2 linked regions of the Homo sapiens genome follow. The main gene of each other region encodes a partner of the protein of the gene in region 2 in a complex. Each region holds a gene or a part of one and is shown on either strand. Other genes may lie near its edges. The genes, in order: KLRC4-KLRK1 and ULBP3. A codon is read from its position in the direction of its gene.

Region 1 (7,188 bases), on a different chromosome or scaffold from region 2:
TAATTTTTGACGGACTGTCAATTTTTTTTTCCAGTGGATATTTAAATTGTTTCTTAGGTCTTGCTATGAGAAATAATGATACATTTCATACCCATCTGTGCATATTTTTGAGTCTCTCTCTGGGATAAATTCCCACAATGATAATTGTTGAGGGAAAGGGCATGTGTGTTTTAAATTTTGGTAACAATTGAATATTTTAGTCCAAAAAGGGATTTTTACATATAGCACTTTGCATTCCTTAAATTAATTCTTGTAAAGAGATGCTATTTGTTAATAATTTGTTTCTTAGTTTTTAATAAAAATTGATAAGTGAGGGTCATCTGTTGTTTTCCTTTTCATACAAACTATATAAAGGTCTATTACCAATAATATTCTGCTTTGAAAAAAGTCATTGGAGAATATATCTTCTTCACTGAACTCAGAAACAATTCTATAAATAATAATCAAGCTACCACTTCTATAATGTTTAGGAACATATCTCTGGAGGGTTTTTAAAATATCTTTTCTCTTCTCTTTTTCATTTCTATTTAGTTTTCTTTTCAGTGATCTCTTAGAAACTCCTGCCTCGATTATATTATCATGATAATAAACTCATCATTTTTTAGGGCGTGACAATATTCTAAACTCAATAGCTTTTAATACCATAATTTTATTATATATTTTAATATTATATGAGAGTTCATGTTATTCCTGCTTTCCTCATGAAGATAAAGTCAACTGAATGATTGCCATTCATTTAATCACATAGTTTCCAAGATTCATTTCAATATACTGAGAGTAGACAAATGGAACATAGGACTTACCATTTTCTCTACATTTGCTTTTGACTACTGGACATCTTTGCTTTTGCCATCGTGTTGAAAAATCACTCTTCTTCAGATCCAAGTTATAATTATGAAATTCACTCATCTCTAGAGAAAAAGAATTCAGGCTTATATGAGTCATGGCCTTTCTGCCATTTGGGGCATAAATTTTAAAAATTCAGCTTGCCATTTCCATCTATGTACTTCCCCTGACTATCCTTTTTAAAGTACAACATGAACTTACTTTTGTTTTATAGTACTACATTATTATGTTTACACTTTACTATATAAATAAAACTATATTTATGCCATGGAAAGTACCCTTAGCAAAATCCTATATACTATTAAAATTAGTTAATTCGTAATGTATAATGAAACCTAACATTACCAGAAAGGGACTTGGTTAGTGAAAAGGCAGATGTAGGGAGAAAGACATGTATTTAAATCACAGATCCACATATACAAACTTGATAACTTCACAAATAACCTAGCTTTTGCATCCCAGTTTTCCTAATTTGCAAAAGACGAAAGAAATAAAAAAGAAAAGGATACTGTCACAATCCAGTATGGGTATTTTAAAAATAAAATAAAAATATAATGAACTTAGCATCAATAACATCAATCATTTAGTAAGCTTTTAGTAAATAGCAGTGTGTCTAATTTTCTTCTTTTCTTTTTTTTTTTTTGAGATGGAGTGCAATGGCGTGATATTGGCTCACTGCAACCGCCGCCTCCTGGGTTCAAGCGGTTCTCCTGCCTCAGCCTCTTGAGTAGCTGGGATTACAGGCTTGTGCCACCATACCTGGCTAATTTTTGTATTTTTAGTACAGACGGGGTTTCACCATATTGGCCAGGCTGGTCTCGAACTCCTGACCACAGGTGATCTACCCACCTCAGCCTCCCAAATTTCTGGGATTATAGGCATGAGCCACTGTGCCCAGCCATCTAATTTTCTTTATAATGAAGGACATACATAGGCTAAAATAGTGGGGTCTAATGATTTAGAACAAAGACAGATAATCTTGCCTCTGAACAAAATACCTAAAGAATCATTTTGCTCTCTTGAAATATTAATTATTTACTGATGATTAATATTTACTTAAAAGCCTTTTTTAAACTTTTATTTTTGGTTCAGGGGTGCATGCGAAGGTTTGTTACATATGTAAATTCATGTCACGGGGGTTTGTTGTACAAAAGCCTTTTATAAATTAAATGATAATATGAATTATATTTTATAGGTAAAATTAGACATTGATTGCGCATGTAATACCTAACTCAGTTATTTTACATATGGAGTAAAGAGAGTAGGTATCACTTTATGGATGAAGAAATTGAATGCTAGAGATGGCCAAAATCATAAAGCTTATTTAATATAATGTTACCAACTGTGAATAAGTTATAAATTTATAAACACCTTTAGGATAAAAAGTGCTTTAACATACATGTCAGTTGATTTGAATATTACACAAATCTAAGATAAATATGGAATGTTTCATGCCTGTATTTGATAGAAAAAGAAACTAAACTAAACTACACAGAGGTTGCAAATTGACCCTTCAAATCTAGAGAGCGGTAAAAGTTTGAGTAAAATTCAAGTCTGACTCCACATCTATTTCACTATTTCAAGCTGTCCCAAGTTGTGAGCGACTTTACCATAATATAGTTAATAAAATAAAGGGAAAAAAGTTTTTAAGTTTTGGAAGACTTGATTTAAAATACAATATGAACATAACATGAAATCAACATAAATAGAACATGAAAAGAATCAGAGTAAATTGCTTGCCTATGCCTTATATGCTTGTATGAAATTCTTGGTATCTTAAAATTGTATAAAAACAAAACTACACACTTATGTGGTAAAAACATACCCCAGCTGTGTCGAGACCTCCGACCACGAATCCACCCCATCAAATACTTATAAGTGCACGTCTACCGCAGAGAGGAATCTAAAGTCTTCAATGCACAAAGGATTCCTGAATAAAATAAAACTGGGCATTTGTTTTTTGTTCTCTTTCCCGTGGTGAGATAAAATATTTTGAATAGAAAAGTAAAATGCAGAAACTTTTCCCCTGTGCATGCCTTTAAGAAAAGAATAGAAATGACAATTCACATAAAGCCAGGCAAAATTAATTTTATACATTTCTCTTGGTTGTAAAATAATCGCCAATTACTTCAAAATGTCATAACAATATAATGAACCTATTAATTCACCTACATTGAGATATTTAATACCAATATTTTACTTTACTGATATTAGATAACAACACACCCAGTTTTCTGTTTATAGTCGTTTATTGCTTCTTGGCCTTTTAGCTAAGATCAAGTGTTTCCAGTTGTTTATTTTATCTGGCAATAATTTAGTTTTCTTTCTGCAAGCTAAACTCAGGTAAGTTATATGCACTTTTGTTGAATGTCCTTTTCTAGTGCATTTTAATCCAACGTGCCCATATCATCATCATCAACAAATTATCATCACCATCATCATTAACAAAACTAATCTCACATGTTTATATAGTAACATCTTAGCAATGCACAGCAGAGCTTCCAGAAAAAACCATTTAATAAATAAGCATAGTGCTTAGATTTCAAAAATAAAAGCTATTTCATATTTGATTATGATAGTTGGAAAGCACAGATATAACTTGTTTCACCTTGCATGTAAAGATGTGTATCAAAGGTAAGTGCCCCCTACAGCATCAGAAAACTCAAAAATTTGACAATTTAAATTGAATCTCAATTCTTCTCATCCTAAATGTAAAGATTCATTTTTCTAGTTTTGCTTAGAGACAAGGCTTCTTCTTATAGTAATATTACAACTTCTGATTCTTCAATAAGTATATCCTAATTACCTATCATCAGATACAGTGATAGAATATACATCAGAAATGATAAGCATTCCGTATCCTCAGGAGTTCTATTCAAGCATCTAAGAAACAATTAGAATTACCTTATAGTGTAAATATTTTTATTTTTTTGAGGTTGAAATATAATTTCTCATATCTTGAATAATAAACACACACACATACACACATACACACACCTGCTCAGAGAGGGAAGATCTTGATTCTTGTGGATAAAAGCCTTCTATAAAACTAGAAAATTTAGATATGTCCTCAGTTCCTGATCTAGAATTGAAAGTGGAGATACTTAGTGAATTTCTATCTTTGAGAAAGATGTGACAAATATTATAATCTCATCTTCCTGTGGAAAAACATAAACCACAGTACTTCCGCCTTATCACTACAAAAATATTGTTAATTTGGTAAAAGAGTTAAGACCACCCATTGTTGGATAAATGTTAGGTTGGTGCAAAAGTAATTGTAGTTTTGCCATTATTTTAAATAACATTTTAGGATTTGAAAATGATGAATTTAAATGATGCCATTTAATCCTAAATATTTTAGAGATTCAATTCAATTCCAGTTAATACCTCAGGTTTTGTTGTAGAACTTACAAAGCAGAATTCTACATGTACATTAAATTACAAAAGTCAAGACTAGGAAAGTCACAATTGAAGATGAAGAAAATGTGGGAGCCTTGTTTTACTAGATAGTAAGACCTATGTTAAAACCGTATTAATAAAGGCAAAGTGGCATGTGGGGCATAGATAGACAAATTGAGAAGGGTAAAAATACAGACAAGAAAAAGTCATGTGCATAGATTAAAAAATATAAGGTAACATTGCAGATAAAGTGGGAAATTAGCTCCTATTCAATAATTTGTCCTGGGTTACTATCACACTGGCCTTTAAGTTACAAAAAATTAGTCCTGGGAATTTTTAAATTTTAATATAAAAAACATGAAATTGCATCTCTGTCATATCTACATCATATGCAGGAGAATTAGAAACTTAAATATATACCCCAGTATACATAAGAATAATATATGAATTGATACCAATGAACAAGATAAGCTAAATATATATTTTATGTTTATTAATTTAAAATACTAACATAAGACATCATATAAAGTAATATAAGATGAACACATTATAACATTTTAACAAAAACCAAAGCTATTAATCTTAAAACTCTGAAATATAAGGAAGGAAAACAGCTTTCATGTGGTGATGTGTTAAAGTTGGACAATAAATTTATTCAACATTTTTTTTCTTTAGCGAATGCTATTTGCTATGCACTTTTCTAGATCTTGAGAATGTCAAAGTAAACAATCCAAAAGAAAGTTTTTGCCCACATGGAAATTAATTACTTTTTTTTTTTTTTTTTTTAAGAGATGGAGTTTCACTCTTGTTGTCCAGGCTGGAGTGCAACGGGGCGATCTCGGCTCACTGCAACCTCCGCCACCTGGGTTCAAGCAATTCTCCTGTCTCAGCCTCCAGAATAACTGGGATTACAGGCATGTGCCACCACACCTGGCTAATTTTTGTATTTCTAGTAGAGACGAGGTTTCACCATGTTAGTCAGGCTGGTCTCGAACTCCTGACCTCAGGTGATCCTCCTGCCTCAGCCTCCCAATGTGCTGAGATTACAGACGTGAGCCACCACACCCAGCTGGAAATTACTTTTTAGTTTAGGTGATATAAAATGAATAAGTATAAAACAAATTCAAAATTAAACAAGATAGGTGAATATAAAACAAGTTGAAGAAAATATGTTATTTTCTGACATACCAAGATTCTTTTCAGCTAATCAACATTTTCTATTAGCTATTTTATATAGTAAAAATAGATCTATATAGAGGAAATATAGGCTGATATTTTCTAACAACTACATTTTAACAAATATTTGGTTTTTGAAAGGAAATGAATAAATGAGTAAATGCAGGCTTTTTATGGGAAAAACCTGAATCACAATTTCCTGAAGAGTTATTTTTATATATGTAGTTTTCGATTGAATAGAGATTGTCTCTTAAATACAGAATTGAGAAAAGGGGGATAGGAATAGGATAAAAAAGAACATTTGAATATCCTACCTATTTCGTTTAGTTCAAATGGCAACTTACAGCCAACTGGGAAGTCCCCACACATACCTAAAAGAAGATTTCTGAAATAAATACCATGATAAAGCTAAGCACCAGGGAGAGTTTTATTGTCATATATAAAGGTCCCTAAACCAACTGACAGAGTGTGGAAAGGATTCTTAAAGAAGAAAATTCTAAAATGGGTCCTGTATGTCGGGTTAAAACAATTAGTTAGATAAAGAAATAGTATGTTAAAACTCCAATTTCTTTCTCAATGTTGAACATACACTCACTTTGCTGTAGTCATGATAGTAAACTTATTGGGGATTTGCTGGGCATTTGTACTGGTTTATTCTATGTGAATTGCAAAAGGACATAGCATAGTTTTCAGATAAAATACTTTCTAATAAGTGAAATAAAACCAACGCAATTAACTTCTGCAGAAAGAATAATTTGACTATAAAAGTACCTGAACAAACTTCATATAGACGTATCTATATAACTTTCAAAAACTATTGTTAGAAGAAAAATTACAATATTTTGCAAACAGCCTGGGCTCAAGTCATTTGAGAACATCCATCACCACAATAAACTATTTAATTACTTTCATTAGTTGAGAAGAGCCAACAATCAACCGGCCTTTTTGGTCAGTAAGCTAACTCGCACTGTGGCCTCAGAAAACCCTTCTCTTCTGGTACACAGGAAAGACTTAACACGCAGCCAACTTGTGGTTAGAAACAGAGTGCTTGGCAGGTTGCTGGCTTCAAGCTGTGACACTAAAGCTGGATGTGGTCAGAGGCGTTTACTGGACGCTTGCCCAAATATGAAAGCTTAAGATGTGCAGCTATTGCCAAGCAAAAATTTTGTAATCTTGACCTTTTGGTAAATGTGTTTGAATTGACAAAAGACATGTCAAAAAGGACAAATTTTTAAAATTCACATGGACAATAAAGAAAATAAAAAGGAGTGGAAGAAATAGAGCTGAGTCTTTGGATATGCAGGGGCATCTATGGCCACACCACCATGATGCATCCAGTCTCGTCTGGACACGCATGGGCATATTGAAGCAGAAGTGAAATGATGACTAATGTAAAAGTAAAAAAGTCTGCAAACATATTTTAAGAAATATGTATATATATATTTTCAGAACCTATTTTCCATTCAGCTAGGTATTAAGTACTGGGCTACACATACTGACATATAATGTTAACTGGTGTATTGTAATTATATGAACTCAAGGCAGAGATTCCATAAATCTGGAATTTATACTTTGGGGAAAAACAGGTCATCATCTTGGCAATTAATTAATTTTCTCTGGCACAGCTTCCTAAGCCAGGAATGATTAAATGATTTTTTTGCCCCATCTCAGTTGAAATTTTGTATAATTCTAAAATTTAGCAATTCAATTGAAATATCTTTAGCAAATATTTGTGTTATATTAACTTAATCCATGCTAGGACACACC
Region 2 (5,757 bases):
AATGACAAACCCAATGAATGGGGCTTTTCCAGTGAGTCCCAGACTAGTCAAATAGAGTTCTCTGGGGCAGGGGCTTTTGAGGGGCTCCAAGCCCAGCATGCCCCTCCAGTGAGTGGAGACTGTGTCCTTGCAGCTGTCACGGACATGGTGAGTCCACTGTTTTCTGGGCACAATAAATCAGGATATATTGTGCAGACAAGAAATACGAAGAAATATTAGGAGGAAGAATATAAATTTTCAAGTACGAGTTGGGAAGAATTAGAAAAAAAACAATGAGGAAAGGGGCAAGGTTGGCTTGGTTGTAGCTAACCTGGTGGAGAAACACAGCCATCTGTGATAGAGGGCCTAAGCTGTTAGGTTCCCCTCCAATGGTGAGACCACCTCCACAACCTGCCCTGTGTCCTCCTCTCTCCTGAGGCTGAATGCAGCTCTTGTGCCTTCAGTGCCAAGAATGCCACAGTCCCAGACCAGAGGAAGAGCTGATGTGGACGGTGGAAAAGGAGGGGGTGGGTGTAGAAGGAGAAGGCTGACAGCAAGGATTTCCTGAGGATAAACAAAAAAAATGTCACTTGAAACTGGCAAAAAAAAAAAAAAAAAAAAAAAAAAGTAAGGGTATAAAGAACAAGATGGAAATGGAAATCTTGTATAATTTCATTATGCAGTGTTTAATTTTAGGGTTTGGCACTTTCACGTATAACTTTTATACAATTATCATCATATACAACTTACGATTATTTTAAATGACTAGAGTTTAGTTTTTGATCTGGGTTAGCGTTCATAGTGCAAAGTTCTCTCGTTCCACTCAGTTAACCCCATTTTTTGGAGGGCTCTATGTCATTTTATTTTACTTACGAATCTTTAATTTTAACCTTTATTATAGATTAAAGGGTACACATACAGGTTTGTTACATGGGTAGATTTTGGAAGGCTGAGGCTTGGTGTCCCAATGATCTCATCACTCAAACAGTAAGCATGGTACCCAACAGGTGGTTTTTCAGCCCAGGTGCCCCTCCTGTCTCACCTGTCTAGTAATCTCCAGTGCCTCTGGTTCATGTGAATTCAATGTGTAGCTGCCACTTTCCAATGGGAACATGCAGTATGTAGTTTTCTGTTCTTGCATTAGGTTGCTTAGGATAATAGCCTCTAGTTCCATCCATGTTGCTGAAAAGGACATGATTTTGCTGTGTTTGGTGGCTGCATAGATTTCCATGGTGTTTATGTACCACATTTTTTTCATTCAATTCAGTGTTGCTGGGCACTTAGGTTGATTCTGTGTCCTTGCTAGTAAGAATAGCACTGTAATGAACATATTGGTGCAGGTGTCTTTTGGATAAAATGAATTCTTTTCCTGTGGATATATCCCGAGTAGTGGGATTGCAGGCTTGAATGGTAGTTCTATTTTAAGTTCTTGGAGAAATCTCCAAACTGCTTTCCATAGCGGCTGAACAAGTTTGCTTTCCCACCAACAGTGTCTGTTTCTTTTCCTCTGCAGCCTCACCACCATCTCCAACTTTGTGACTGGTAAGAGATGGTAACTCATTGCAGTTTTGATTTGCACTTATCTGATGATTAGTGATATTGAGCATTTTTTCACGTTTGTTGGCCACTTGTATGTCTTCTTTTGAAAAGTGTCTGTTCATGTCTTTGCACATTTTTTAATTGGGTTTTTTTTTCTTGCTTGTCTAATTGTTTAAGTACTTTGTAGATTCTGGATATTGGACCTTTGTCAGATGCAGAGTTTGCAAATAGTTTCCCCATTCTACACGCTGTCTGTTTACCGTGTTGCTAGTTTCTTTTTCTGTGCAGAAGCTCTTTAGTTTAATGAGGTCCCATTTGTCAATTTTTGTTTTTGTTACAATTGTTTTTAGTGTCTTCTTCATGAAATCTTTGCCAGGCCCTATGTCCACATTGGTATTTCTTAGCTTATATTCCAGGATTTTCACAGTTTTATTACCTGCGCAACATAGGAAGACCCAATCTCTACCTAAATATAAAACAATTTGCCAGGCATGGTGGCATGCGCCTGTAGTCCCAGCTACTCTAGAGGCTGAGTCTAGAGGATCACTTGAGCCCAGGAGTTGGAGATTACAGTGAGTGATGACTATGCCACTTCACTCCAATATGGTTGACAGAATGAGAAAATGTAAAAAAACTATAATGATAAAAAGGATTAATACAATTCTTGGTCAGTGCATGGAAAGGATCCCTGAGGTCTGAAGTCCTGCATGCTATTTTACTAGCAATACCGTTTCGAAGAATAAGGTCATGCTTCAGAGAAATGTCTGCTTTTCCACAATCAAAGAAGTAGAAAGAAAATGCCTTTTGCTGGGATTTCTTGTTCAGTTAAAACTTGTGCAGGAATTCCATCCATTAGCACCGAGAGAAAGTGGCAGAAGGTGTTAAGAAAAATGGCTGGCCGGGCGCGGTGGCTCACGCCTGTAATCCCAGCACTCTGGGAGGCCGAGGCAGGTGGATCATGAGGTCAGGAGATCGAGACCATCCTGGCTAACAAGGTGAAACCCTGTCTCTACTAAAAATACAAAAAATTAGCCGGGCGCGGTGGCGGGTGCCTGTAGTCCCAGCTACTCGGGAGGCTGAGGCAGGAGAATGGCGTGAACCCGGGAAGCGGAGCTTGCAGTGAGCCGAGATTGCGCCACTGCAGTCCGCAGTCCGGCCTGGGCGACAGAGCGAGACTCCGTCTCAAAAAAAAAAAAAAACAAAAAAAAAAAAAGAAAAATGGCTGCTGGGATCATGAGCGAAGGTAATGAGTGGCCTGAGATGTTGAGCCGACAATGTCCTCATCATCTGCTGGGGGCCTCTGGGCTTGCTAAGGCTTGAACTCCTGCTTTCCAGAAAGGCACAGTGGTGAGTAGACAGGCGGCCTCCCTGAAGGGAGAGCAGGAACCAGACCAGGCTAACAGAGGCTTCTTGATATCACCTTCCACCTTGAGGAAAGATGAAGCATTGGTTTAAGTGGCTGAGAAAAACCTGGGTCTGTTCTCCTGGGTGATCCTTCCCAGGCCCTCCCCATTTCAGAGCTTCTCCCCCAGATAAGGAACATGTTTTTCCCTCCAACCCTACCCCTGGCTGTGCAGCCTTTCCCAACCTCCACCCTCCTTCACCACACCACAGAGGCAGCCCAGGTCCTGTTACAGCCCATAGGGGCTCAGACCTGAGGCTGGTAATGAGGGGTCTGCACCCTCACTCAGGGCCTGCTCCTCCCTTTCATAGAAGGGTCTAGAGGACCTGGGGGAGCCCTGTCCAAAGAGAGGTCTCTGGATCCATGTTCCCTGGCCTTGGGTGGGTTTGTAGGCAAACCTTCTTTCTCCTTCGCTCTCAGCCTCTCCTCACCCTGGGAGCTGCACCCATAGCTCTGAATGGGACTGTCCCTGCCCTGCCCCATTCATTCCTGGCCAAGCTCAGTGGTGACCACGGACCTCTAGCAGCAGCTCAGCTGCCCTAGCTGAGTCCACTCTGCTCCAGGCAGGGCCATCAGCTGGCTCAGGATCTGGAGTGTGCACGAGGCAGAATGGCAGTGGCATCGTCCCAGGGCCTAGCCAGGAATCCCATGGGTCCAAGGGGCTCGGCCATTTCCTAAACCTCATCCTGGACACGCTCTACTCTTCACCTTCCACCTTAACTGCTGGGACTCAAGGTGCTCTCTCTGGGAATGCAGCCTTAGGAACTGGGTGGGCCAAGGCCCTCACAGCCCCCTCGTCCTGGGATTCCCCCAGGTTTCTCTCTTCTTAGCCTCCTCCAGGGACACCCCTTCCCTTGACATCCTTGGTGAAGTGGCCATGCTACTCCTCTCCTACTGTGCAGACTGCCCATGCCTGAGTTCCTGCTGCCTGCAGGCCACACACCACTACCCTTCCCAGATAGAAACCTGCTGTGAAATAGGCCTGAACTGTCTAAACCCTCTTGAACTCAACCGGCCCTGAGCCTTGATATGGGTCCCTCCCTTTCCCTCTGGCCCTGATGGTGAGAATCCATCAGAACTCAAGGTTGAGCTGCCCAGGTCATTGCAAACAGGCGACACCAGGTCTCATTCACCTGTCTCATGTCAGAACGAGAAGGTCCCGGCCATGGGGAGAGGTGGGACTCTGGAAATTCTCCTTTCCCTTCCTCCCACCTCACCCATCTGTCTCTCGTTCCCCTCACAGTTTTGCCCACAGTACCTGTCACTCTAAATGACTCTTCTCAGATGCCAGGGAGGATGAAGCAGAGGATGATGAGGAAGCTCCAGGGACTGAGGGTGGTGGCTATGGCTTTGGGTTGAGCTAAGCCTGGGGCCATGGTGGGTGGTGCTGAAAGGGAAACACAAAAGTGACAACTCTTGTCCACGCTCCAAATCTGAGGAGATGGCTCCTTAGCTCCTGCTACCCCAGGTCATCCGGGAAGGCAGAGGATTTGTCTCCCCTGCTGTGGGGCAGCCGCTGTGACAGGTCCTGGGGGTAGGAAGGGAGAAGGGGTGCTCCCTGTCCTCAGGGAGCTCACACAGCTGCTGAGGGAAGCAAGGTGACAGCACAGCCCACCCTCCTGCTGTGGCGGAAGAGGAGGTGATGCCCTAGGGCCGGGACAGGAGAGTCTCGGGGCTGCCATTCGAGGTGGTTTTGATGGATTTCCAGAAACAAACCAAGGGAGAGGAAAGGAAAAGTGATCCTAGGAGGAGGGAAATCTAAGGAGAAAGGTCTAGAAACACAATGACGCCCACAGTTTTGAGGCTGGTGAGAAATCCACAGTGAGTGGAGCAAAAGCAAGTGCAGTGAGGAAGAGGAGTCAGGAGGGAGAGCATAGGCACCCCAAGGAGGAGGCCCCCATGAGGGGTTCATGTTCTTACACTCACTCAAACACACACTCACACTCACACATACATAGACTCACACCCACTCACACCCATACACCCACACCCACCATACTCAGACACTGACAGACAAGGGTGTAACTCGATGGCATCTCCAACATGCTCCCAGTGCTCCCCTGTCAGTTACCTGTGGGTTCCAGCCTCTTCTTCCTGTGCATCAGGAAGTCCCTAAGCCAGCTCTTGCAGTCTCTCATTGAGACCATCTTGAAGAAGGTGGTCAGTCCGCTATCCTTCTCCCACTTCTCTTTCATCCGCCTGGCTCCAGCGTGAACCACTGTCCACTTTCTGTTGTTTGAGTCAAAGAGGAGGAACTTCCGTCCATCGAAGCTGAACTGCCAAGATCCACGGATGTATCCATCGGCTTCACACTCACAAGACATCCTGACCTGCAGCGTGAGGGGTCCTGCCCCAATCAGAAAGAGATCAGCCCTGGTGTTTACAAATTCTCTTCCCTGTCCCACATCCTCCTATGCTGAGACCATTCTCATCTGGTCCTGTTGTCTCCTCCAAGTCCTGCCCTTGCTGCTGGGCTTCATGGAGGTCCCATGTCTAATTTCTTCTCCCCACACACAGAACAGCCCCTGAGCCCACAGTCTGCTCCCTTCTGTCCTTGGTCTCTTTCACTCACCACTGGGTGTGAAATCCTCCAGCTCAGTGTCAGCCAGTTCCAGTCTGAGCCTCTGCCCCACCTCTCTCAGCATTTCCAGTTGTTTTCCCCAGGCATCTGTGGCATACAGCTGCTCTTCTAGGTGACCCATAGATAAGACCTTGTCACTGCCACAGTCATAGGAGAGAAAATTCTTCTGATCCACCTGGCTCTGGACCTCACACCACTGTTGCCCATGTCTGGGCAAATGAATGATGGTGAAGTTATACCAGAGAGAGTGAGCGTC

The links.
Region 1: the proteins of ULBP3 (region 2) and KLRC4-KLRK1 are in contact, whole or in part, in a crystal structure (PDB 1KCG), measured with the Homo sapiens proteins. Residues at the interface, in NP_078794.1 of Homo sapiens: His42, Leu43, Pro44 (codon at 5,715), Trp50 (codon at 5,697), Glu97 (codon at 5,556), Gln100 (codon at 5,547), Arg103 (codon at 5,538), Leu104 (codon at 5,535), Ala107 (codon at 5,526), Asp108 (codon at 5,523); in NP_001186734.1 of Homo sapiens: Lys150, Ser151, Tyr152, Ile182, Glu183, Met184, Gln185, Lys186, Ala193, Tyr199, Glu201.

Annotation. Positions count from the first base shown.
Region 1 is NC_000012.12:10,386,100-10,393,287, forward strand, and holds part of KLRC4-KLRK1 (NKG2-D type II integral membrane protein), read right to left. Parts: intron 5,793-7,188; 5' UTR 5,736-5,792; intron 3,943-5,735; exon of another isoform or gene 3,844-3,942; intron 2,777-3,843; 5' UTR 2,712-2,776; coding exon 2,672-2,711; intron 912-2,671; coding exon 804-911; intron 1-803. Other genes in the region: KLRK1 (NKG2-D type II integral membrane protein), read right to left, coding at 804-911, 2,672-2,711.
Region 2 is NC_000006.12:150,060,407-150,066,163, forward strand, and holds the end of ULBP3 (UL16-binding protein 3 precursor), read right to left. Parts: intron 5,757-5,757; coding exon 5,493-5,756; intron 5,268-5,492; coding exon 4,992-5,267; intron 4,308-4,991; coding exon 4,201-4,307; 3' UTR 4,179-4,200; intron 2,946-4,178; 3' UTR 647-2,945; downstream 1-646.